Linked DNA regions of Homo sapiens: all the other regions are linked to region 1. Evidence: fine-mapped expression QTL. A gene starts in region 1. Each other region holds a variant in brackets. All regions are shown on one strand. Distances are from middle to middle. Region 1 holds the start of ZNF586 (zinc finger protein 586). Region 2 holds the start of ZNF587B (zinc finger protein 587B). Region 3 has its middle 3.5 kb from the start of ZNF671. Region 4 has its middle 6.6 kb from the start of ZNF776.

Region 1 (6,201 bases):
ATGGAAGCCGAGGAAGGGGTCATGGGAACCTGATTTTTATCAAGTCAGTCAAAGGACAGGTAAAAAAAAAAAAACATCCTGGGGCTTGTGATTGGCATCGAAAGGGGTTGGCGGACAGTCCCGTGGGACTGAGACTTCACCCTGTGGGATCTGATGTCCACTGCAGAACTACTTGGTGTATGAGGAAAACCATCCACACATTATCTAGTCACAGAAGTACTCTGTGTTGATTGTTGTGGGGGAGAGCAGAGCAAAAGCAATTTGTATTTTTTTCCACGCAGAATGGCCAAAACAAACCTCCTGATAGCCTCAGTGAATATTACACCTGCTATCAACTTGCTCATCTCAGTTGATGCAGCTCCCATTGCTACAGCTGCTAAGATAAAAAACCCAGGGGTGTTTCCTGAATCCTCTCAAGCTCTCACTGTTCACATTTAAAAATTGAGTTGCCAGGCTGGGCACGGTGGCTCAAGCCTGTAATCCCAGCACTTTGGGAGGCCAAGGCGGGTGGATCACGAGGTCAGGAGTTCGAGGCAGCCTGGATAATATGGCGAAACCTAGTCTCTACTAAAAATACAAAAATTAGCTGGGTGTGGAGGCGCGCGCCTGTAATCCCAGCTACTTCGGAGGCTGAGGCAGGAGAATCGCTTGAACTCAGGAGGCGGAGGTTGCAGTGAGCCAAGATTCCACTATTGCACTCCAGCCTGGGCAACAGGTCCAGACTCCATCTTGGGAAAAAAAAAATTGACTTGCCCCTCTAAAAAACACAAATCCAGATCTAGCCACATTGCCTAAGCCACAACTCTAGTCCATTAATCCTCACCTCGACTAGGGCAGTAGCTTCCAGTTTGATCTTCCTCCTCCCTCAACCCCACAGTCTGTTGCCCACTCAGTAACCAGACAGCGCCTATTAAGAAATTGGTAACATCACCTCACCCCTCTAGTTTCACTTCTAAGTAAGTATTTGCACACCCCAGTATCAGTTCCTGGGTGAACCCTCCACATGTGTTACATTAGTTGACAGACATAGCAACAACTCCCCATAACCTATGTCACTGATGTAGGTTTGGGGTTTGAGGTTTTTCCAAGATCCCCAGATTGAAGGACCGGAGAAATGGCACTTAAGTGTCCTAGGAGGTGCGGTAGTTCCTGCTTGGCATCCCAGCACTTTGGGAAGCCGAAGCAAGAGGACTGCTTGAGCCCAAGGGTTCGAGACTAGCCTGGGCAACATGGCGAAACCCCATCTCTCTCTCTCTCTTTTTTTTTTTTTTTTCAGACGGAGTCTTTCTCTGTCGCCCAGGCTGGAGTGCAGTGGCGCGATCTCGGCTCACTGCAACCTCTGCCTCCCGGGTTCAAGCGATTCTCCTGCCTCAGCCTCCCAAGTAGTTGGGACTACAGGTGTGTGCCACCAGGCCTGGCTAATTTTTTGTATTTTTAGTAGAGGGGGGATTTCACCGTGTTAGCCAGGATGGTCTCAAACTCCTGACCTCGTGATCCGCCCGCCTCGGCCTCCCAAAGTGCTAGGATTACAGGCGTGAGCCACCGCGCCCGGCCGTGAAACCCCACCTCTACTAAAAATACAAAAAGCCAGTTACTCGGGAGACTGAGATGAGAGGCTCTCCTGAGCCCGGAGAGGTCGAGGCCGTGCTGCGCCGTGATCGCGTCACCGCAACCCAGCCTGGGTGTTGAGTGAGAACCCGTCGCCGAAAAAAAAAAAAGATGCCAAGATCTAGACATGTGGGATAGGATGAGGACCAGTGAAGGACTAGAGCATCCCCTACTTCCTACTGTGGATTCTGTAAGTGCTTCTGTAGCCATGAGGTGTGCCAAAAGGCAGGGCTTTCACAAATGTGTCTGTGCTCGGATTTGATAGACTCAGGCTTCTCTGTAAGCTTTTTTTGGCCCTGCAGCCAGATGACTTCAGACTGAGTCTCTAATCTTGTGGCCCAGTGCTCAATGTCACCTCTCAATGATTCAACCTCTCAATGTCCTCATCACTGCCTTCAACTCTGTTCTTCCTTCGAACATCTTTTGGGAATCGCAACTCTAACACAGATTTCCTCCTTTGTTCAAAACTGTCCATGGCTTTTAGCGTCCTCACAGTCAAAGTTCAACCCTCAGCCTGGTACTGAAGAAACAACTCCGCCTCGGCCAGGCGCGGTGGCTCACGCCTGTATTCCCAGCACTTTGGGAGGCCGAGGTGGGCGGATCACCTAAGGTCAGGAGTTCGAGGCCAGCCTAGCCAACATGGTGAAACCCCGTGGTGGCGCATGCCTGTAATCCCAGCTACTCGGGAGGCTGAGGCAGGAGAATCGCTTGAACCGGGGAGGTGGAGCTTGCAGTGAGCCGAGATCGCGCCACTGCACTCCAGCCTGGGCGACAGAGTGAGACTCCGTCTCAAAAAAAAAAAAAAAAAGAAATAACTCCGTATCACACTTCTTTCCCAGTAGACACACGATGTCCCCGTGTTCCGCATCCTCCTGCCTCAGTCGCGCCTGCAGGCCTTTGCCCTCCGCCAGTCTCGCTCTGCCGACCGCATCAACTGGGTGTCGGAAACAGGGATCCCACCCGCCGGCGCCTCTCCGTCCCTGACAGAGGCCTGGGCTGCAGGGACGCGAGGAGGCGGCCCTCACGATCAGGGGCCTCAGGGTCTGGGTGGGTAGGGTGGGTAAGGCCCGGAGGTCGCAGCGCTCACCTGAGCAGGCGCCCTCAGAGCGGCTGCTGCCGCCATGACTCTGGGCGGGGGGGGAACGCGGGCTCGGCGGTGTTCCTGTCGTTGTCCTGTCCCGGGTCGCGACCAGCGGCGTCGCCGAACCTCAGATCCGCCTGTGTGCAATGGCCACAACCACTCCTCCCGAGCTCGTCCAGACCCAGCATCGCCGGATGGACCTGACAGGCCAAAATGGCTGCCACGGCTAGGACGCCGGAAGTCCTGGCTTGACTTTACGTGCCCCGGCAATGGCACGGCTTCTCTGAAGCTTCATTGGCTCAGCCACGTTACCATTTCGCAGGGCGGATTCTGGGTAATGTAGTTCCCAGACATGGGCAGCGCTTAAGGTGGCTTTCTTCCGACTTTCCGAAGAAAGGGGCAAGCTCCACTGCGAGGGGCGCTAGGAAATGGCGACTCCAGGTCCAGATGCGGAGGAGGGTCTCCCATCTTAGAAGAGGCCATACGCACATTTCTGGGGGTACTGTGTGCAACTGATTGCCCGCGTGTTTGGAGACTTCTTATTTCAGAATTTGTGATGCTCGGCTTCTTCCTTTTTTTTTTTTTTTTGTCTTTTTTTTAAGACATAGTTCTCTCTGTCACTCAGGCTGGGGTGCAGTGGTGTGATCTTGGCTCACTGCAGCCTATGCCTCCCGGGTTCAAGCGATTCTCGTGCCTCAACCATCCGAGTAGCTGGGATTACAGGCGTGTGCCACCATACCCTGCTAATTTTTGTATTTTTAGTAGAGACGGGGTTTCCTCATTTTGGCCAGGCTGGTCTCGAACTTCTGGCCTCAAGTGATCTGCCTGCAATGGTCTACCGAAGTGCTAGGATTACAGGCGTGAACCACCGTTCTCAGCCCATTAGCAACACTTTTATTTATATCTTTAACCTACAGATTCCTCTAGAAATCTGATATCAACATCAAAAAGCTAATGAGACAAATGCTATTATGTTACAGGACAATGGCTGCGGTGTTCAAACATGGAGTATGTATGCATGAGAGAAGAGAGAGACCCTCTCACATTGTTTTATATTCAGTAAAAACAACAAGGAAGTAAAACCAAAGACAGGCAACCCCGCGCCAGGCCCGAAACCAGGCCTAGGCCCGCCTGGCCTAAACCCAGTAGTTAAAAATCAACTTATGATTTAGAAGCCGATGTTATTCATAGATTCCTTAGATTGTATAGAAGAACATTGTGAAACTCCCTGCCCTGTTCTGTTCCTCCCTGACCACCGGTGCATGCAGCCCCTGTCACATACCCCTTGCTTGCTCAAATCAATCACGACCCTTTCATGTGAAATCTTTAGTGTTGTGAGCCCTTAAAAGGGACAGAAATTGTGCACTCCGGGAGCTCAGATTTTGAGACAGTAGCTGGCCAATGCTCCCAGCTGAATAAAGCCCTTCCTTCTGCAACTCGGTGTCTGAGAGGTTTTGTCTGCGGCTCGTCCTGCTACATGCACAGGGTGCTTTTACACTGAGATATTTCAAGTGCCTTAAATCCATGCGTTCACCTCTTTGCTGGCAAGTGCTTATCATTGTCAGTGGCATTGGAATCAGAGTGACTCCATCTTGAAAATGGGCTGGATAAAGTAAGGCTGAGAAATACTCGGCTGCATTCCCAGGTTAGGCATTCTTAGTCACAGGATGAGATAGGAGGTTGGCACAAGATGCAGGTCACAAAGACCCTGCTGATAAAACAGGATGCAGTAAAGAAGCTGGCTAAAACGCACCAAAACCAAGATGGTGATGAAAGTGACCTGTGGTCATCCTCACTGCTCATTATACGCTAATTATAATGCATTAGCATACTAACTCCCGCCAGCGCCATGACAGTATACCAATGCCCTGGCAATGTTTGGAAGTTACCCTATATAGTCTAAAAAGGGGAGGGAACCTCAGTTCTGGGAAATCTCCACCTCTTTTTTTTTTTTTTTTTTTGAGATGGAGTCTCGCTCTGTCACCCAGGCTGGAGTGCATTGCTGCGATCTCGGCTCACTGCAACCTCCGCCTCTTGGCCAAGTTCAAGTGATTTTCCTGTCTCAGCCCCCCGAGCAGCTGGGATTATAGGCGCCTGCCACCGCGCCCAACCTGTAAAATTTTCTATACTTAAAAAAAAAGTTGGCTGGGCGCGGTGGCTCACACCTGTAATCCCAGCACTTTGGGAGGCCGAGGCGGGCGGATCACGAGGTCAGGAGATCGAGACCATCCTGGCTAATATGATGAAACCCCGTCTCTACTAAAAATACAAAAAAATTAGCTGGGCGTGGTGGCAGGCGCCTGTAGTCCCAGCTACTCCGGAGCCTGAGGCAGGAGAATGGCTTGAACCCGGGAGGCGGAGGTTGCAGTGAGCCGAGATCACGCCACTGCACTCCAGGCTGGGGGACAGAGCGAGACTCCGTCTCAAACAAACAAACAAACAAACAAACAAAAAAGTTGGCCGGGTGCGGTGGCTCATGCCTGTAATCCCAGGACTTTGGGAGGCAGAGGTGGGCGGATCACGAGGTCAGGAATTCGAGACCAGCCTCACCAACATAGTGAAACCCCGTCTCTACTGAAAATAGAAAAATTAGCTGGGTGTGGTGGCGCATGCCTGTAATCCCAGCTACTCAGGAGGCTGAGGCAGGAGAATCACTTGAACCCAGGAGGCGGAGGCTGCAGTGAGCCAAGATCGCGCCACTGCACTCCAGCCGGGGTGACAGAGGACAGAGTGAGGCTCCGTTTCAAAAAAAAAAAAAAAAAAAAGCTTTCTTGGATTATGCTTTGTATAAATTAAATTGGATATTTAGTGTAAACTTTATTCAGTAATGGAGGTGAGGGTTTCCAGTAGTATTTCTTTCCCCAAACAATCATTTTCTCAGATTTCCCGTGAGTTGGCTCATAAACATGTTGTACCATAAGAAATTGAAATCTCAAAGGCAAGATGGGTCTCCTGTTGGGTCCACACCAAAATTTGTAAATGGGGGAAAAGCATTACCGCTTTGTTAGCCATATCTACTTTTTCTTATCTGAAGCCTCTTTTTGAATCCCTTGGAGTTCCTGTTCAATGGCACTTATTTTGAATGTAGTGACTTTTATAGTTTCATGTGATATTGGTGTCAAGAGAGTCTTTTTGCTGCTGCATCTGCGAAATAATTTTTTTTTACTCTTTGGAGAGGTGAGTTTGAATGTTCAGGAACGTTAATAAAACATTCTTTTTTGATAATCGGATGGCTTCTAAATGATCAGAAACTTGAGAGCCATGTTTAATTAGATATCTGGGGGAGGTTAAGTAACCTCACTGGCCAGGCACAGTGGCTCATGCCTGTAATCCTAGCACTTTGGGGGACAGTGGGGGGGTGGGGGGTGGGGGGGCGGATCATGAGGTCAGGAGTTCGAGACCAGCCTGACCAACATGGTGAAAACCTGTCTCTACTAAAAATACAAAAATTGGCCAGGCATGGTGGCTCATGCCTTTAATCCCAGCACTTTGGGAGGCCGAGGTGGGCAGAT
Region 2 (6,201 bases), 61 kb before region 1:
CGGTCAGAGACCCCACCTGCTTGAGAATAACAGAGGAAAAAGTAAAGGGGACCTTGTCTTGCACCTCAGCTGCCAGCTCAACCACAGAGGGATAGAGCACCAAGAAGCCTCTTGGGGTCCCTGATTCCAGGCCTTGGCTCGTGGATGACATTGCTGGACCTGCCCTGGGTGAGTCTTGAAGAGTCAGCCTCAGACCAGGCAACATTCACCACAAGCTGACTGAAGAGCTCTTAGCCCTTAATGGAACCTCAGTGGTAGTCTGACAGCACTCCCTGTGGGCCCGTGCTGGTGGTGGCCACAGAGTGAGGCTGCTCTGCCTGTGGAAAGGGGATGGAAGAGTGGGAAGGGCTCTAGCTTGTAGTTTGAGTGCCAGCTCAGCTGCAGTGCAAAGGAACACCAGGTAGATTTCTAAGGATTTTTACTCCAATCCCTGGCTCATGGATGGCATCTGTATACCAACCTGAGGCCTGGGGAACTCACCGTCCTAAGGAGAAGGACATAAGCCTGTCTGGCTTTGCCACCTGCTGACTGTACAGGGCTAGGGCCTTGAGGGAACACAGGCGATAGCCATGTAGTGGTCACAGGAGCCTTGGGTGAAACCCAGTGCTGTGCTGGCTTCAGCTCTCACCCAGCACAGTCCCAGTGGTGGTAGCTAAAGGGGTGCTTCTGTCCCAACCCCCAGTTTCAGGCACTTCAGCACTGACAGAGACATGCTGGGACAAAGTGAGGGAAGACCCAACAAGAGTCTCTACCTGTTATGTTAATCAAGGGAAATCTTTCAGATCTTATTCAAGACCACAAAGGTGGTACAGCTCTCTGAGTCTGCAAGAGTCACAGCATTACTGAGTGTGGGGTTCCCGCTAAAGTAGATTCAGCTTAGATCACAACACCCGGGTCCTTTCAAATACCTGGAAACTCTTCCTAAGAAGGACAGGTACAAATGAGCCCAGACTGTGAAGACCACAATAAACACCTAACTGTTTAATGCCCAGACACTGACGAATATCTACAAGCATCAACACCATCCAGGAAAACGTGACCTCACCAAACAAACTAAATAAAGCACCAAAGACGAATCCTGGAGAAACAGAGATACGTGACCTTTCAGACAGATAATTCAAGATAGCTATTTTGAGGAAATTCAAAGAAATTCAAGACAAACACGGAGAAAAAATTCAGAATTCTATCAGATAAATTCAGCAAAGAAATTAAAATAATTAAATAGAATTGGCCGGGCACAGTGGCTCACGCCTGTAATCCCAACACTTTGGGAGGCCAAGGCGGGCGGATCACAATGTCAAGAGATTGAGACCATTCTGGCCAACATGGCGGAACCCCGTCTCTACTACAAATGCAAAAATAAGCCGGGCATAGTAGTGCATGCCTGTAGTCCCAGCTACTCGGGAGGCTGAGGCAGGAGAATGGCATGAACCCGGGAGGTGGAGCTTGCAGTGAGCCGAGATCGTGCCACTGCGCTCCAGTCTGGGCGATAGAGCGAGACTCTGTCTCAAAAAAAAACAAAAAGAAAAAGACAATTTGTATTTCACAGGGCACTCTGCTATAAAGGGTAAGATGTTTTGTTTAGTAAACAAATAAAAAAATAAAGACAGCCAGGCACGGTGGCTCACGTCTGTAATCCCAGCACTTTCGGAGGCCGAGGCGAGCGTATTGCCTGAGCTCGGGAGTTCGAAACCAGGCTAGGCAACATGGCGAAACCCCGTCTCTACTAAAAATACAAAAAATTAGCCGGGCATGGTGGCGGGTGTCTGTAATCCCAGCTACTTGGGAGGCTGAAGCAGGAGAATCGCTTGAACCCGGCAGGCGGAGGTTGCAGTGAGCCGAGATCACGCCACTGTACTCCAGGCTGGGTGACAGACTGAGACTCTGTCTCAAAAAAAAAAAAAATAAATAAATAAAATAAGCTGGGCTCGGTGGCTCGCGCCTGTAACCCCAGCACTTTGGGAGGCCGAGGCAGGTGAATCACCTGAGATCAGGTGTTCGAGACCAGCCTGACCTACATGGAGAAACTCCATCTCTACTAAACATACAAAAAATTAGCCAGGTGCAGTGGCGCATGCCTGTAATGACACCTACTCGGGAGGCTGAGGCAGGAGAATCGCTTGAACCCAGGAGGCGGAGATTGCGGTGAGCCGAGATCACGCCATTGCATCCAGCCTGGGCAACAAGAGTGAAACTCCGTCTCAAAAAAATAAAAAATAAAGACTGCATCTAACGAGGTAAGGTCACCAACGAGCACACTGTTCCACTATCAGTTCTCACTAGAGGATTCTGTGATGTAATGCCCAACCTTGTTTTTACTAACCCTGTTTTTAGATTCTCCCTTTCCTTTAATCACCTAGACTTGTTTCCACCTGAATTGACTCTCCCTTACATAAGAGAGCCAGACAGACTCCATCTTGGCTCTTTCACTGGCAGCCCCTTCCTCAAGGACTTAACTTGTGCAAGCTGACTCCCAGCACATCCAAGAATGCAATTAACTGATAAGATACTGTGGCGAGCTATATCCGCAGTTCCCAGGAATTCGTCTGATTGATAACGCCCAAAGCCCCCCATCTATCACCTTCTAATAGTCTTAAAGCCCCTGCACCTGGAACTGTTTACTTTCCTGTAACCATTTATCCTTTTAACTTTTCTTGCCTACTTTACTTCTGTAAAATTGTTTTAACTAGACCCCCCCTCCCCTTTCTAAACCAAAGTATAAAAGAAAATCTAGCCCCTTCTTTGGGGCCGCGAGAACTTTGAGCGTTACCCATCTCTTGGCCGCCGGCTAAATAAACGGATTTTTTTTTAAATAAACGGACTCTTAATTCGTCTCAAAGTGTGGCGTTTTCTCTAACTCGCTCAGGTACAGTGACTATAAAAGATTAGGCCTTCAGCAGCTCAAAAGGGCTGTCCTGACAGTCACTCCTAATAAAAACTCAGCATCTGCTGCCTATGGCTCTGCCACCT[T/C]AAAGACTCTTCCTTGCAAGACTACAGGCTTTTGGGTGATGATGAGGTGACCTGAGGGCATGGAAGGCACCACAATTACCTGAGCAGAGAGCCTCAGCGTGGCCACCACCGCCATCGAACCACGTGGTTTAAAGCAGGGTTGGGAGGAGAGGGTGACCAGCCAGGAGATATGGGCATGACGGTCCCTATCCTGGCCCAGGGGTGGGTCACGCTTGGCGCCGTCACAGAGCTCCAGAGTCGCCTCTGTGCAGCAGAGGACAACTGTTCTCCGCCTTCTGGGTTCAGTCACCGCAGTGCCGACCTAGCGCTCAGGAGCCTCTCCGACAAATAAACCCAACACCAATCAAAATGGCCGCCACCAGAGGGCGCCGGAAGTCCGGACCCATTGTCACGTGCACACAGGAAATGCCTTTATTCTGAGCCCCCATGGCTCTTCCACTCTGTCATTCCATGCGGAGTTTTCTGGGTAATGTAGTTCCCTAGGTAACAAGGAGGGTAAAGGGCACAATTCCCAGAGGCGGTTCTGCAGGAAAAGCCCAGCTCCACCTCAGGAGTATCCTTAAGATATGCGCCCTGACTGGTATGGTGGCTAGCTCCTGTAATTCCACCAGTTTGGGAGGCCAAGTCAGAAGGATCATTTGAGGCCAAGAGTTAGAGATTAGCCTGAGCAACAAAGCAAAATCCTGTTTGAAGGGGGCCTGCCCCTCCATACCTATGGGTATCTCTCATCAGGTGGAGACGAGAGACTGAGAAAAGAAATTAGACACAGAGAAAAAGTATAGAGAAAGAATAGTGGGCCCAGGGGACTGGCACATTCAGCATGTGAGGACCTTCACCGGCGCCGGTCTCTGAGTTCCCTCAGTATTTATTGATCATTATTTTTACTCTCTTGGTGAGGGGAGTGTGGCAGGGCAACAGGGTGATGGTGGGGAGAAGGTCAGCAGGGAAACACGTGAGCAAAGGAATCTGTATCATGAATAAGTTCAATGAAAGGTACTGTGCGTGGATGTGCACATAGGCCAGATTTATGTTTCACTTTAAACAAACATCTCAGTGTAGCAAAGAGCAACAGAGCAGTATTGCTGCCAGCATATCTCGCTTCTAGCCACAGGGTAGTTTTCTCCTATTTCAGAATACAACGAATGGGAATGGTTGGCTTTACACCATGACATTCCATTCCCAGGAATGAGCAGGAGACAGAAGCCTTACTCTTATCTCAACTGCAAAGAGGCCTCCCTCTTTCACTCCTCCTCCTCAGCACAGACCCTTTAAGGGTGTCCGGCTGGGGGATGTAAGGTCTTTCCTTTCCCATGAGGCCATATCTCAGGCTGTCTCAGTGGGGGAAACCTTGGACAATACCCAGGCTTTCTCAGGCAGAGGTCCCTGCAGCTTTCCGCAGTGCATTGTGTCCCTGGTTAATAGAGAATGGAGAATGGCGATGACTTTTACCAAGCATACTGCCTGCAAACATATTGTTAACAAGGCACATGCTGCACAGCCCTAAATCCATTAAACCTTGATTCAATACAGTACGTTTCTGTGAGCACAGGGTTGGGGCTAAAGTTACAGATTAACAGCATCTCAAAGCAGAACAATTTTTCTTAATACAGATCAAAATGGAGTTTCTTATGGCTTCCTTTTCTACATAGACACAGTAACAATCTGATTTCTTTTCCCCATATCCTGTCTCTGCAAAAAATAAAAAATATTAGTGGGGTGAGGTCAGGCAGGCCAGTGGTCCCAGCTGCCCCAAGGTTGGGGTTAGGGTTAGGGAGCCTGAAGGAGGGAGAATCGCTTGAGCTCAGGAGTTTGAAGCTGCGGTAAGCCGAGATCGTGCCACTGCACTCCAGCCTGGGCAACAGAGCAAGACCTCTTCTCTAAAAAATAAAAATAAGGGCTGGGTGTGGGTGGCTCACGCCTGTAATCCCAGCACTTTGGGAGGCTGAGGCGGGTGGATCACCTGAGGTCAGGAGTTCAAGTCCAGTCTGGCCAACATGGTGAAACCCCGCCTCTACTAAAAATACAAAAATTAGCTTGGCATGATGGCATATGCATATAATCCCAGCTACTCAGGAGGCTGAGGCAGGAGAATCTCCTGAACCCAGGAGTCAGAGGTTGCGGTGAGCTGAGATTGTGCCACTGCACTCTAGCCTGGGCGACAGAGCAAGACTCTGTATTGGAAAAAAATAAAATTAAATAAATAAATAAATAAAAGATTGCAGATCTTTCTACTGGGCAGAGGATCATCCTGCCTTTCCTTAAAACTCCTATTGAGATTTCTTGCAATTATTAGCTGTAGCTGATTACCCTAGTGTATGGAAAAATATTATTTCAGAGTTAGTGTAGGTGCTCCCAAAGGCTATAGATCTAAATTCACCTATCATTTCAAGTGGTCCTTTGATGCAAAATTCTTCCACTGGAAGCAGAGATTAATGCAAAGGTTAATAACCATTATTGTATTGTTAAAATGAATGTGTAAACACCCAGCGGGTTCATTTTGCCCACTGCCCAGATAGAGCCAATTTATCAGGACAGGAGAATTGTAAAAGAAAGAGTTTGATTCACACAGAGTTGGATGAACAGCAGACTGGAGTCTTATTAATATTACTCAAATCAGTCTTCCTGAAAACTTGGAGACTGGGTTTTTTTGTTGTTGTTTATTTGTTTGTTTGTTTTTTTGAGATGGAGTTTTGCTCCTGTTGCCCAGGCTGGAGTGCAAGGTCATGATCTCGGTTCACTGCAACCTCCACCTCATGAGACTGGGGTTTTTTAAGGATAATTTGGTAGATAGGGGGCCATGAAGTGGGCAGTCCTGATTGGTTGGGTTGGAGATGAAATCGTAGGTATAGCAGGACAAGCTGCAGACTAAACCCCTCAGACACCGAGTTAAAGAAGGAAGGGCTTTATTCAGCTGGGAGCTTCGGCAAGACTCACATCTCCAACAACTGAGCTCCCCAGGTGAGCAATTCTCGTACCTTTTACGGGCTCACAACTCTAAGGGGGTCTGTGTGAGAGGGTCGTGATCGATTGAGCAAGCAGGGGGTACATGACTGGGGGCTGCATGCACTGGTAATTAGAACGGAACAGAACAGGACAGGGATTTTCACAATGCTTTTCTATATAATGTTTGTAATCTGTATAACATTACTGATTAGGTCAGGGGTCGATTTTTCTTTTTTTTGATTTGAGTCTTGCTCTGTCGCCCAGGCTGGAGTGCAGTGGCATGATCTC
Region 3 (6,201 bases), 38 kb after region 1:
CTATATCTTATAACCCATTATTTTAAACTGATGACAACACTGATCCCATAAACAAATAACAAACAAGAGAAAAACTAATAAAAACATTACACTTTAACTATGTCACCCAGCTTTTAAATTTTTTGTTTCTATGTATATCTTATTGTACTGTCTATGTCTTGAAAACTTGTTGGAATTGTTTTTGATAGGTTCATATTTTAGTCTTTCTACTCAAGATATGAGTTTACACATCACAGTTACATTGCTACTATATTGTTTTTTTTTTCTGTGTAGTTACTATTACCAGTGAGTTTCGTGCCTTCAGATGATTTCTTGTTGCTCATTAACATCCTTTTAGATTGCAGAACTCCCTTTAACATTTCTTGTAAGACAAGTCTGGTGTTGACAAAAATCTTTCAGCTTTTGTTCATCCAGAAGAGTTTTTATTTCTCTTTCATGTTTGAAGGATACTTTCAGCAAATACACTATTCTAGGATAAAAGTTTTTTCCTTCAGCACTTTAAATCCATCATGCCACTCTCTCCTGGCCTATAAGGTTTATACTGGGAAGTCTTCTACCAGGCATATTGGAGCTCCTTTGTGTGTTGTTTCTGTTCTTTTGCTGCTTTTAGGATCCTTTCTTTACCCTTGACCTTTGGTAATTTGATTACTAAATGTCTTGAGGTAGTCTTCTTTGGGTTAAATCTGCTTGGTATTCTACGGCCTTCTTGTACTTGAATATTGATATCTTTCTCTTGGAAAGATAATCCTTCCTAATATCTTTGGGAAATTCTCGATATTATCCCTTTGAATAGACTTTTTTAAAATTATTATTATACTTTAAGTTTTAGGGTACATGGGCACAACGTGCAGGTTTGTTACATATGTATACATGTGCCATGTTGGTGTGCTGCACCCAGTAACTCATCATTTAGCATTAGTTATATCACCTAATGCTATCCCTCCCCCATCCCCCCACCCCACAACAAGCCCCAGTGTGTGATGTTCCCCTTCCTGTGTCCATGTGTTCTCATTGTTCAATTCCCACCTATGAGTGAGAACATGCAGTGTTTGGTTTTTTGTCCTTGTGATAGTTTGCTGAGAATGATGGTTTCCAGCTTCATCCATGTCCCTACAAAGGACATGAACTCATCATTTTTTATGGCTGCATAGTATTCCATGGTGTATATGTGCCACATTTTCTTAATCCAGTCTATCATTGTTGGACATTTGGGTTGGTTCCAAGTTTTTGCTATTGTGAATAGTGCCACAATAAACATACACGTGCATGTGTCTTTATAGCAGCATGATTTATAATCCTTTGGGTATATACCCAGTAATGGGATGGCTGGGTCAAATGGTATTTCTAGTTCTAGATCCCTGAGGAATCGCCACACCAACTTCCACAATGGTTGAACTAGTTTACAGTCCCACCAACAATGTAAAAGTGTTCCTATTTCTCCACATCCTCTCCAGCACCTGTTGTTTCCTGATTTTTTAATGATCGCCATTCTAACTGGTGTCAGATGGTATCTCATTGTGGTTTTGTTTTGCATTTCTCTGATGGCCAGTGATGATGAGCATTTTTTCATGTGTTTTTCGACTGCATAAATATCTTCTTTTGAGAAGTGTCTGCTCATATCCTTTGCCCACTTTTTGATGGGGTTGTTTTTTTTCTTATAAATTTGTTTGAGTTCATTGTAGATTCTGGATATTAGCCCTTTGTCAGATAAGTAGGTTGTAAAAATTTTCTCCCATTCTGTAGGTTGCCTGTTCACTCTGATGGTGGTTTCTTTTGCTGTGCAGAAGTGCTTTAGCTTAATTAGATCCCATTTGTCAATTTTGGCTTTTGTTGCCATTGCTTTTGGTGTTTTAGACATGAAGTCCTTGCCCATGCCTATGTCCTGAATGGTATTACCTAGGTTTTCTTCTAGGGTTTTTATGGTTTTAGGTCTAACATTTAAGTCTTTAATCCATCTTGAATTAATTTTTGTATAAGATGTAAGGAAGGGATCCAGTTTCAGCTTTCTACATATGGCTAGCCAGTTTTCCCAGCACCATTTATTAAATAGGGAATCCTTTCCCCATTGTTTGTTTTTTCAGGTTTGTCAAAGATCAGATAGTTGTAGATATGCGGCATTATTTCTGAGGGCTCTGTTCTGTTCCATTGGTCTATATCTCTGTTTTGGTACCACTACCATGCTGTTTTGGTTACTGCAGCCTTGTAGTATAGTTTGAAGTCAGGTAGCATGATGCCTCCAGCTTTGTTCTTTTGGCTTAGGATTGACTTGGCAATGCGGGCTCTTTTTTGGTTCCATATGAACTTTAAGGTAGTTTTTTCCAATTCTGTGAAGAAAGTCATTGGTAGCTTGATGGGGATGGCATTGAATCTATAAATTACCTTGGGCAGTATGGCCATTTTCACGATATTGATTCTTCCTACCCATGAGCATGGAATGTTCTTCCATTTGTTTGTATCCTCTTTTATTTCATTGAGCAGTGGTTTGTAGCTCTCCTTGAAGAGGTCCTTCACATCCCTTGTAAGTTGGATTCCTAGGTATTTTATTCTCTTTGAAGCAATTGTGAATGGGAGTTCACTCATGATTTGGCTTTCTGTTTGTCTGTTATTGGTGCATAAGAATGCTTGTGATTTTTGCACATTGATTTTGTATCCTGAGACTTTGTTGAAGTTGCTTATCAGCTTAAGGAGATTTTGGGCTGAGACGATGGGGTTTTCTAGATATGCAATCATGTCATCTGCAAACAGGGACAATTTGACTTCCTCTTTTCCTGATTGAATGCCCTTTATTTCCTTCTCCTGCCTGATTGCCCTGGCCAGAACTTCCAACACTATGTTGAATAGGAGTGGTGAGAGAGGGCATCCCTGTCTTGTGCCAGTTTTCAAAGGGA[G/A]TGCTTCCAGTTTTTGTCCATTCAGTATGATATTGGCTGTGGGTTTGTCATAGATAGCTCTTATTATTTTGAGATACGTTACCATCAATATCTAATTTATTGAGAGTTTTTAGCATGAAGGGTTGTTGAATTCTGTCAAAGGCCTTTTCTGCATCCATTGAGATAATCCTGTGGTTTTTGTCTTTGGTTCTGTTTATATGCTGGATTACGTTTATTGATTTTCGTATGTTGAACCACCCTTGCACCCCTGGGATGAAGCCCACTTGATCATGGTGGATAAGCTTTTTGATGTGTTGCTGGATTCGGTTTGCCAGTATTTTATTGAGGATTTTTGCATCAATGTTAATCAAGGATATTGGTCTAAAATTCTCTTTTTTTGTTGCATCTCTGCCAGGCTTTGGTATCAGGATGATGCTGGCCTCATAAAATGAGTTAGGGAGGATTCCCTCTTTTTCTATTGATTGGAATAGTTTCAGAAGGAATGGCACCAGCTCCTCCTTGTACCTCTGGTAGAATTCGGCTGTGAATCCATCTGGTCCTGGACTTTTTTTGGTTGGTAAGCTATTAATTATTGCCTCAATTTCAGAGCCTGGTCTATTCAGAGATTCAACTTCTTCCTGGTTTAGTCTTGGGAGAGTGTATGTGTCGAGGAATTTGTCCATTTCTTCTAGATTTTCTAGTTTATTTGCGTAGAGGTGTTTATAGTATTCTCTGATGGTAGTTTGTATTTCTGTGGGATGGGTGCTGTTATCCCCTTTGTCTTTTTTTATTGCATCTATTTGATTCTTCTCTCTTTTCTTCTTTATTAGTCGTGCTAGTGGTCTATCAATTTTGTTGATCTTTTCAAAAAACCAGCTCCTGGATTCATTGATTTTTTGAAGGGTTTTTTGTGTCTCTATTTCCTTCAGTTCTGCTCTGATCTTAGTTATTTCTTGCCTTCTGCTAGCTTTTGAATGTGTTTGCTCTTGCTTCTCTAGTTCTTTTAATTGGATGTTAGGGTGTCAATTTTAGATCTTTCCTGCTTTCTCTGGTGGGCATTTAGTGCTATAAATTTCCCTCTACACACTGCTTTGGACGTGTCCCAGGATTGTGGTATGTTGTGTCTTTGTTATCGTTGGTTTCAAAGAACATCTTTATTTCTGCCTTCATTTCGTTATGTACCTAGTAGTCATTCAGGAGCAGGTTGTTCAGTTTCCATGTAGTTAAGTGGTTTTGAATGAGTTTCTTAATCCTGAGTTCTAGTTTGATTGCACTGTGGTCTGAGAGACAGTTTGTTATAATTTCTGTTCTTTTACATTTGCGGAGGAGTGCTTTACTTCCAACTATGTGGTCAATTTTGGAATAGGTGTAGTGTGGTGCTGAAAAAAAATGTATATTCTGTTGATTTGGGGTGGAGAGTTCTGTAGATGTCTATTAGGTCCGCTTGGTGCAGAGCTGAGTTCAATTCCTCGATATCCTTGTTAACTTTCTGTCTTGTTGATCCGTCTAATGTTGACAGTGGGGTGTTAAAGTCTCCCATTATTATTGTGTGGGAGTTTAAGTCTCTTTGTAGGTCACTAAGGACTCGCTTTATGAATCTGGGTGCTCCCGTATTGGGTGCATATATATTTAGGATAGTTAGTTCTTCTTGTTGAATTGATCCCTTTACCATTATGTAATGGCCTTCTTTGTCTCTTTTGATCTTTGTTGGTTTAAAGTCTGTTTTATCCGAGAGTAGTATTGCAACCCCTGCCTTTTTTTGTTTTCCATTTGCTTGGTAGATCTTCCTCCATCCCTTTATTTTGAGCCTATGTGTGTCTCTGCATGTGAGATGGGTTTCCTGAATACAGCACACAGATGGGTCTTGACTGTTTATCCAATTTGCCAGTCTGTGCCTTTTAATTGGAGCATTGAGCCCATTTACATTTAAGGTTAGTATTGTTATGTGTGAATTTGATCCTGTCATTATGATGTTAGCTGGTTATTTTGCTCATTAGTTGATGCAGTTTCTTCCTAGCCTTGATGGTCTTTACAATTTGGCATGTTTTTGCAGTGGCTGGTACCAGTTGTTCCTTTCCATGTTTAGTGCTTCCTTCAGGAGCTCTTTTAGGGCAGGCCTGGTGGTGACAAAATCTCTCAGCATTTGCTTGTCTGTAAAGTATTTTATTTCTCCTTCACTTATGAAGCTTAGTTTGGCTGGATATGAAATTCCGGGTTGAAAATTCTTTTCTTTAAGACTGTTGCCTTCTTTAGAATATTTATTTAGGGTATTGTGACAAAGTCAAAAGGTGATGCAGGACAAAAATCATTATATGCAGGACATGTCCTGTATGTATAGGAATCTTGGAAATTTTATTAGTGATGTCTTTCATGCTACTAACACATTTGAAAAACACCTACTGAGAGCTCGTATGTGTTCCTTGGATGTGTATTTTAACAGTGAATTATCAAGACAGCACAACTTCACTGTTGATTTTTACCATTCTGATATCTTCTTTACAATTGCTCAGCATTTTCAGGAAAAAAGAGTCACATTTTGTTGACAAAGTGTGGTCAAGATCACAACACAACCATATGCTTAACTTCATTCTTTCACTTATACTTTAGTATTCAGGCTCAAACTTTACTGAGATCTTAACTTTGTCCATCTATCACAGATATTTCCTTAGAGCAATTTCTTTCATTATCTTCAAATAACTACGGAATCATTATTAATAGCTGTCAGGATTTTTCCCCCGGGGATAATCTCACCTCCTAACACAGACACCATACTTACAATGACAATGACAGGTTAAATGGTAATTGCACTGTGTTTTGCTGTGATGGAGACATCACTGATTACCCAGGCAGGAAGAGTTTTCTGAAGAAATCTGTCCACTGGTTTCAGGGAGACTCCACATCATCCCTCTTCCTTCTTCCACTCCAAGGCCTTGTTTGGAATATTTTCTCTTCCGTCTCTGACCAAACTGAAGCTCACAAAAGTTACTGTAAAGCTTGAGTGCACACATATTTAAAAAGCAACAAGGTAATAGTTATTAGCTTCTAGCTGTGAGTGTACGCAAAGAGACATTGTGGTGTGGTGTATCTATTTAGTTTTGCAGCTTTGGGGAACATCTGAAATGTCTCAACATTTCTGCGATCGGTGCATACTACACTCCAGGGAATCTAGGTCCAGGCCTTTTAAGAGGACAGAAGTCAGCCGGGCACCATGGCTCACTCCTGTAATCCCAGCACTTTGGGAGGCCGAAGCAGGCAAATCACAAAGTCAGGAGTTCGAGACCAGCCTGGCCAACATGGTGAAATCCCGTACTCTGCTAAAAGTACTAAAATTAGC
Region 4 (6,201 bases), 29 kb after region 1:
GTGATCTTCGCTCACTGCAAGCTCAGCCTCCCGGGTTCATGCCATTCTCCTCAGCCTCCCGAGTAGCTGGGACTACAGGCGCCCGCCACCACACCCGGCTAAGTTTTTGTATTTTTAGTAGAGATGGGGTTTCACTGTGTTAGCCGAGATGGTTTCGATCTCCTGACCTCATGATCTGCCCGCCTCGGCCTCCCAAAGTGCTGGGATTACAGGCGTGAGCCACTGCGCCCGGCTTTTTTTTTTTTTTTTTTGAGACAGAGTCTTGCTGTGTCGCCCAGGCTGGAGTGCAGTGAGGCAATCTCAGCTTACTGCAACCTCCACCTCCTGGGTTCAAGCAATTCTCAGGGCTCAGCCTCCCAAGCAGCTGGGATTACAGTGCCATTACGCCCGGCTAATTTTTTTTTTTTTTTTTTCTTTGAGACGGAGTTTTGCTCTTGCTGCCCAGCGTGAAGTGCTATGGCACAATCCTGGCTCAACACAACCTCTGCCTCCCAGGTTCAAGCAATTCTCCTGCCTCAGCCTCCCGAGTAGATGGAATTATAGGCATGTGCCACCACGCCCGGCTAATTTGGTTGTGTGTGTTTTTTTTTTTTTTTTTTTTTTTTTAGTAGAGATAGGGTTTCTCCTGTCTCTACTAGAAAAAAAAAAGGGTCAGGCTGGTCTCCAACTCCCAACCTCAGGTGATCCATCCACCTCGGCTCTCCAAAGTGCAGGGATTACAGGCATGAGCCACCACATCTGACCGATTATCTATTCTTAAGTGTATTACTATGCTGTTTTACTTATAATCCTGATATCTCTCATTTTTGTTATTTTTGAGACGGAGTTTCTTGCTCTTGTTGTCAGGCTGGAGTGCAATAGCACCATGTCAGCTCACTGCAACCTCTGCCTCCTGGATTCAAGTGATTCTCCTGCCTCAGCCTCCCTAGTAGCTGGCTAACTTTGTATTTTTAGTAGAGACAGGGCTTCTCCATGTTGGTCAGGCTGGTCTCAAACTCCTGATCTCAGGTGATCCACCTGCCTCAGCCTCCCAATGTTCTGGGATTACAGGCATGAGCCACCATGCCTGGCCTCTAAATGTTATCTTGTATGACAGCATGATATATAGGCACATAAAAGCAAGATGCTTTAGAAATGTAAATAAAAGATTATAAATTACAAATGGCAATGTAATCAGGGATGTAAAGAATCTCAATACCTAAATGTTACCTTGCATGACAGCAAGTTATATAGGCATATTTCATCTTCACTATCAGTAATATTTTGCTTTCTTCTTTCTAGAAATATCTGTGATGATTCTTAATCAACATAGGACTCTACAGTAATGTCTAGAAGTTTAAAATTGTGTGTTCCAATTATATTATGACTACACACACTGGAAGGTATATTTCTATCTATTGTGGAGTAAAATTTTCTTGATTATACCCTGCTTATGCTCCCACTAAACCTTTGTAATCAGCAAATTTAAAAGCCCAAGTCTCTGAGTAGCATTTGTGCTTCTGTGTGGCCAGTATGACCCCACCTCCATTCTGTCTAACAGCCCCTTGGGGTTCTGAATATGCTGGTTGTGTGGATCACATCTCTCCCTCTTGGGTTTGTTGTCAGTGTGGTATATATTTATGTCGGCTCAGGCTGTCAATAGGTGCCAGTACCCAATGCCTCTTACACAGAGTCCTATAGGTATAACAGGGGCACCTCTAGGATGGACTGAGATTTTTTTTTTTTTTTTTGAGACAGGGTCACTCTTTTCCCCAGACTGGACTGTGGTGGCATGATCTTGGCTCACTGCAACCTCCGCCTCCCTGGTTCAAGCAACTCTCCTGTATCAGCCTCCCGCATAGCTCGGACTACAGGTGAGCGCAACCCATGGCTAATTTTTGTATTTTTAGTAAAGACAGGATTTCTCCATGTTGGCCAGGCTGGTCTCAAACTCTTGACCTCGTGATCCACCCACCTCGGCCTCCCAAAGCGTTGGGATTACAGGCGTGAGCCACCGTGCCCTGCCGGACTGAGGTCTTTAAATACTGCACACCTGTCACACAGGGTCCCTGGGATATGTGTTTTGTCTATAGGCTGTGCTGCAGTATAACCCTCAGGCACTTGTCACACACCAGGAGCATACACTCTTTGAAATTTTTGCTTCCAGACTGTACCACAGCATGCTGGGAGAATGTAATCCAACTGTGTGTTTCTGGCTGTGTCATAATCACACACTTATGTGGGACTACCCCTGAATCACCCATTTCAAGAATATCTAGTTTGCTTATGGCTTATACATGTGTAAACAACTTAAATCATATCAGAGATATGCACAAAAAATTAGAGTATAATAAATTCTAATACAAAAATTACACAATTTCAAGAAATAAATAAAATTTTGGCCAGGCGCGGTGGCTCACGCCTCTAATCCCAGCACTTTTGGAGGCCAAGACGGGTGGATCATGAGGTCAGGAGTTCAAGACCAGCCTGGCCAAGATGGTGAAACCCCGTCTCTACTAAAAATACAAAAATTAGCCGGGCGTGGTGGTGGGCGCCTGTAATCCCAGCTACTTGGGAGGCTGTGGCAGAGAACTGCTTAAACCTGAGAGGCGGAGGTTGCAGTGAGCCAAGATTGCACCATTGCACTCCAGCCTGGGTGACAGAGAGAGACTCCGTCTCAAAAAAAATAAAAAAATAAAATAAAATTTAAGGCCAGGCATTGTGGTTATGTATGTAATCCCAGCACTTTGGGAGGCCAAAGCAGGTGGATTGCTTGAGCCCAGGAGTCTGAGACCAGCCTGGGCAACATTGTGAAACCCAGTCTCTACAAAAAATAAAAAATAAAAGCTTAGCCAGGCATGGTGGTGCTTGCCTGTAGTCCCAGCTACTTGGGAGGCAGAGGTGGGAGGATCACCTAGCCCAGGGAGGTCCAGGCTGCAGTTAGCTGTAATTGTGTCACAGCACTCCAGCCTGGGTGACAGAGTAAGACCCTGTCCCACACCCCGCACAAAAAAGGAATTTTAAAAAGGAAAGTCATACCTGTAGATTAATAGAGATATATGAGACAGAACTACTAAAAGTCATGGGGATAAATTTGGGAATTTCTTTCTTTTTTTTTTTTAATTTTTGTATTTAGTAGAGACAGAGTTTCACCATGTTGGCCAGGCTGGTCTCAAAATCCCAACCTCAGATGATCCACCCGCCTCAGCCTCCCAAAGTGCTGGGACCACAGGCGTGAGCCA[C/T]CACGCCCACATTTGGGAATTTCATTGCAATGAAGCTGCTTAAAGAACAAAGATATTTTTGAGACAATAGAAAAAATGGACGATGATAACATATTTTGTTATGCTTTAAACATTTCTGATGGAACCAGTTGTAGGTGTTATGAAAGAGCCCTTGGACTTTGGAAATACCCTGTGAAGAGATTATGCATTAAGCGATGTCAGGAAGCTGGGCGCTGTGGCTCATGCCTGTAATCTCAGCACTTTGGGAGGCCGAGGTGGGTGGATCACCAGAGGTCAGGAGTTCTAGACCAGCATGACCAACATGGTGAAACCTTGTCTCTACTAAAAATACAAAAATTCACTGGGCGTAGTGGCAGGTGCCTGTAATTCCAGCTACTAGAGAGGTGGAGGCAGGAGAATCACTTGACATGCTGGGATTACAGGCGTGAGCCACCACGCCTGGCCTAGATTCTTTACATATCTGATTACCTTACTATTTCCAATTTACAATCTTTTATTCATGTTTCTGAAGTGTCTTTCCTTTCACTAATGGGAGAGGAAGTATTAACTCTTTCACTCATCAAACACAAGTTAGTAAAATACCAGAGACTCAATTTGCAAATCATGCCCCCAAAAAGACAAAAATGCATAACCAAAAAATGTTATAAAGACACTAAATGGCCACTCAAATACTTTAAACAGTCTTCTTCATTTCCCACTGGTAAAGATCTTACAGTGGACTTTGTGAGGCTTAATATTTTCAGTCAGTAATGGAAGGAAGAATATTCAAAGAAGGTTTCAGAGGAAATATAGAGGAGAGGCATAAGGCAAGGAGAGGAGGTTGCACCATGTCTCCAGGTCCCTCAGAGTATGTCTCAACCTCAGAGCAGAACTGGTTCCTTCTGATTGTAACACTCTGTAGGGACCAGCCCCACAGGGTCGGTGGGTCTCTCCCTGTGTGCGGTGACGAGAGAGTGTAGAAATAAAGACACAAGACAAAGAGATAAGAGAAAAGGCAGCTGGGCCCGGGGGACCACTACCACCAATGCGCGGAGACTGGTAGTGGCCCTGAATGTCTAGCTGCACTGTTATTTATTGGATACAAAGCAAAAGAGGCAGGGCAAAGAGTGTGAGTCATCTCCAATGATAGGTAAGGTCATGTGGGTCATGTGTCCACTGGACGCGGGGCCCTTCTCTGCCTGGCAGCCAAGGCAGAGAGAGAGAGGGAGAGAGAGAGACAGCTTACACCATTATTTCTGCATATCAGAGACTTTTAGTACTTTCACTAATTTTGCTACTGTTATCTAGAAGGCAGAGCCAGGTGTACAGGATGGAACATGAAGGTGGACTAGGAGCGTGACCACTGAAGCACAGCATCACAGGGAGATGGTTAGGCCTCCGGATAACTGCGGGTGGGCCTGACTGATGTCAGGCCCTCCACAAGAGACGGAGGAGCAGAGTCTTCTCTAAACTCCCCCCGGGGAAAAGGGAGACTCCCTTTCCCGGTCCGCTAAGTAGCGGTTGTTTTTCCTTGACACTAAGGCTACCGCTAGACCAGACTTCCCAGATGCTGGCATCACCGCTAGACCAAGGAGCCCTCTGGTGGCCCTGTCTGGACATAACAGAAGGCTCGCACTCTTGTCTTCTGGTCACTTCTCACTGTGTCCCCTCAGCTCCTATCTCTGTATGGCCTGGTTTTTTCTAGGTTATGATTATAGAGCGAGTATTATTATAATACTGGAATAAAGAGTAATTGCTACAAACTAATGATTAATGATATTCATATATAATTACATCTATGATCTAGATCTAGTATAACTCTTGTTGTTTTATATATTTTATTATACTGGAATGGCTCATGCCCTCGGTCTCTTGCCTCAGCACCTGGGTAGCTTGCTGCCCACAACACTCACCTGGGAATAGTTGGTATTTACTAATTCACATTTACAAAACCGTGGCTGGAGTGTCAGCATTCCTGCCATGGGGAAAGTGGATATTTGAACCCTGAGAAAAGATTCTGGGTACAATAATCTCACCTTCTTGCTGGGAAGGAACTATCATTTCAGCAGTAAGTACAATGATAGTTTCGGCATGGGGACTGGAGATTACCTCTGGAAAACAGCTTGGACTGAGAAAATTAGTTAATATTGTGGATAAATGAAGTTACCACTGAGAATGACATAAGTAGCTAGAAAAGTTTCTGTGAAGTCTGAGAACACATAAATCTCAATGGATAGTGAGCAGAGGACATGGGGCTGTAAGTTCTGAGATAATTAAGTGGAGCCCATGGCTATCCTAGAGACTTGACTAACATGAAATTCTTATTTCTACAAAGTGTGTATTATTTCAATTTCTGAGAACTCAGGAAAAACCAACTGAGAGCCAAGGAAATAGTAAGGTAAGACTAGAAAGATGTCATAGAACAGAAAGAAAGCGATGGTGGCATCATATTGATTCAATGTCTTGGAATCTGCATCTTGTCACCTGGGGACACATTCTTTGATACAAAATGGAGGACCAGCTCATAGCTCCTGTGGTATTGAAAAACAAGTACTCCGGCCAGGCGTGGTGGCTCACGCCTGTAATACCAGCACTTTGGGAGCCCGAGGCGGGCGGATCACGGGGTCAGGCCATCGAGACCATCCTAGTCAACATGGTGAAACCCAGTATCCACTAAAATACAAAAAAATTAGCCAGGCGTGGTGGCGCACTCCTGTAGTCCCAGCTACTTGGGAGGCTGAGGCAGGGGAAATCACTTGAACCTGGGCGGAGGAGGGTGCAGTGAGCCGAGATCGCACCACTGCACTCCAGCCTGGTGACAGAGCAAGACTCCATCTCAAAAAAAAAGAAAAAAGAAAAAAAAAGTATTCCTTACAGTAAAGGAATGATATCACTGAAGAATATATTAGGTTCAAATATGTCTTTGTTTTACTTTTTCTTATTTCTTATTGAAATGGAAATAGAAAAAAAATTATTTTAGTATCAGGGTAATACCAACCTT

What was found. PIP is the estimated chance that this variant, and not a neighbour inherited with it, causes the effect. A credible set is the group of variants that fine-mapping cannot tell apart.
Region 2: its variant is the best candidate, but not a certain one, in a credible set for the expression of ZNF586 in whole blood (TOPMed, PIP 0.87).
Region 3: its variant is the best candidate, but not a certain one, in a credible set for the expression of ZNF586 in T cells (TOPMed, PIP 0.67).
Region 4: its variant is the best candidate, but not a certain one, in a credible set for the expression of ZNF586 in whole blood (Lepik 2017, PIP 0.90).

The regions. Positions count from the first base shown.
Region 1 is chr19:57,766,373-57,772,573 of GRCh38, reverse strand. It overlaps ZNF586 (zinc finger protein 586), which reads right to left and starts at 2,898. Exons shown (of 3, transcript NM_017652.4): 1 at 2,696-2,898. The coding sequence starts at 2,731. RefSeq lists enhancers at 2,664-2,913, 2,635-3,174.
Region 2 is chr19:57,827,413-57,833,613 of GRCh38, reverse strand. It overlaps ZNF587B (zinc finger protein 587B), which reads right to left and starts at 3,315. Exons shown (of 3, transcript NM_001376223.1): 1 at 3,050-3,315. The coding sequence starts at 3,085. It also overlaps the pseudogene FKBP1AP1. The variant T/C (reference allele first, on the strand shown) is at 2,971.
Region 3 is chr19:57,728,029-57,734,229 of GRCh38, reverse strand. No RefSeq gene overlaps it. Among named protein-coding and RNA genes, the nearest start is that of ZNF671, 3.5 kb to the right of the region's middle. The variant G/A (reference allele first, on the strand shown) is at 2,889.
Region 4 is chr19:57,737,121-57,743,321 of GRCh38, reverse strand. No RefSeq gene overlaps it. Among named protein-coding and RNA genes, the nearest start is that of ZNF776, 6.6 kb to the left of the region's middle. The variant C/T (reference allele first, on the strand shown) is at 3,222.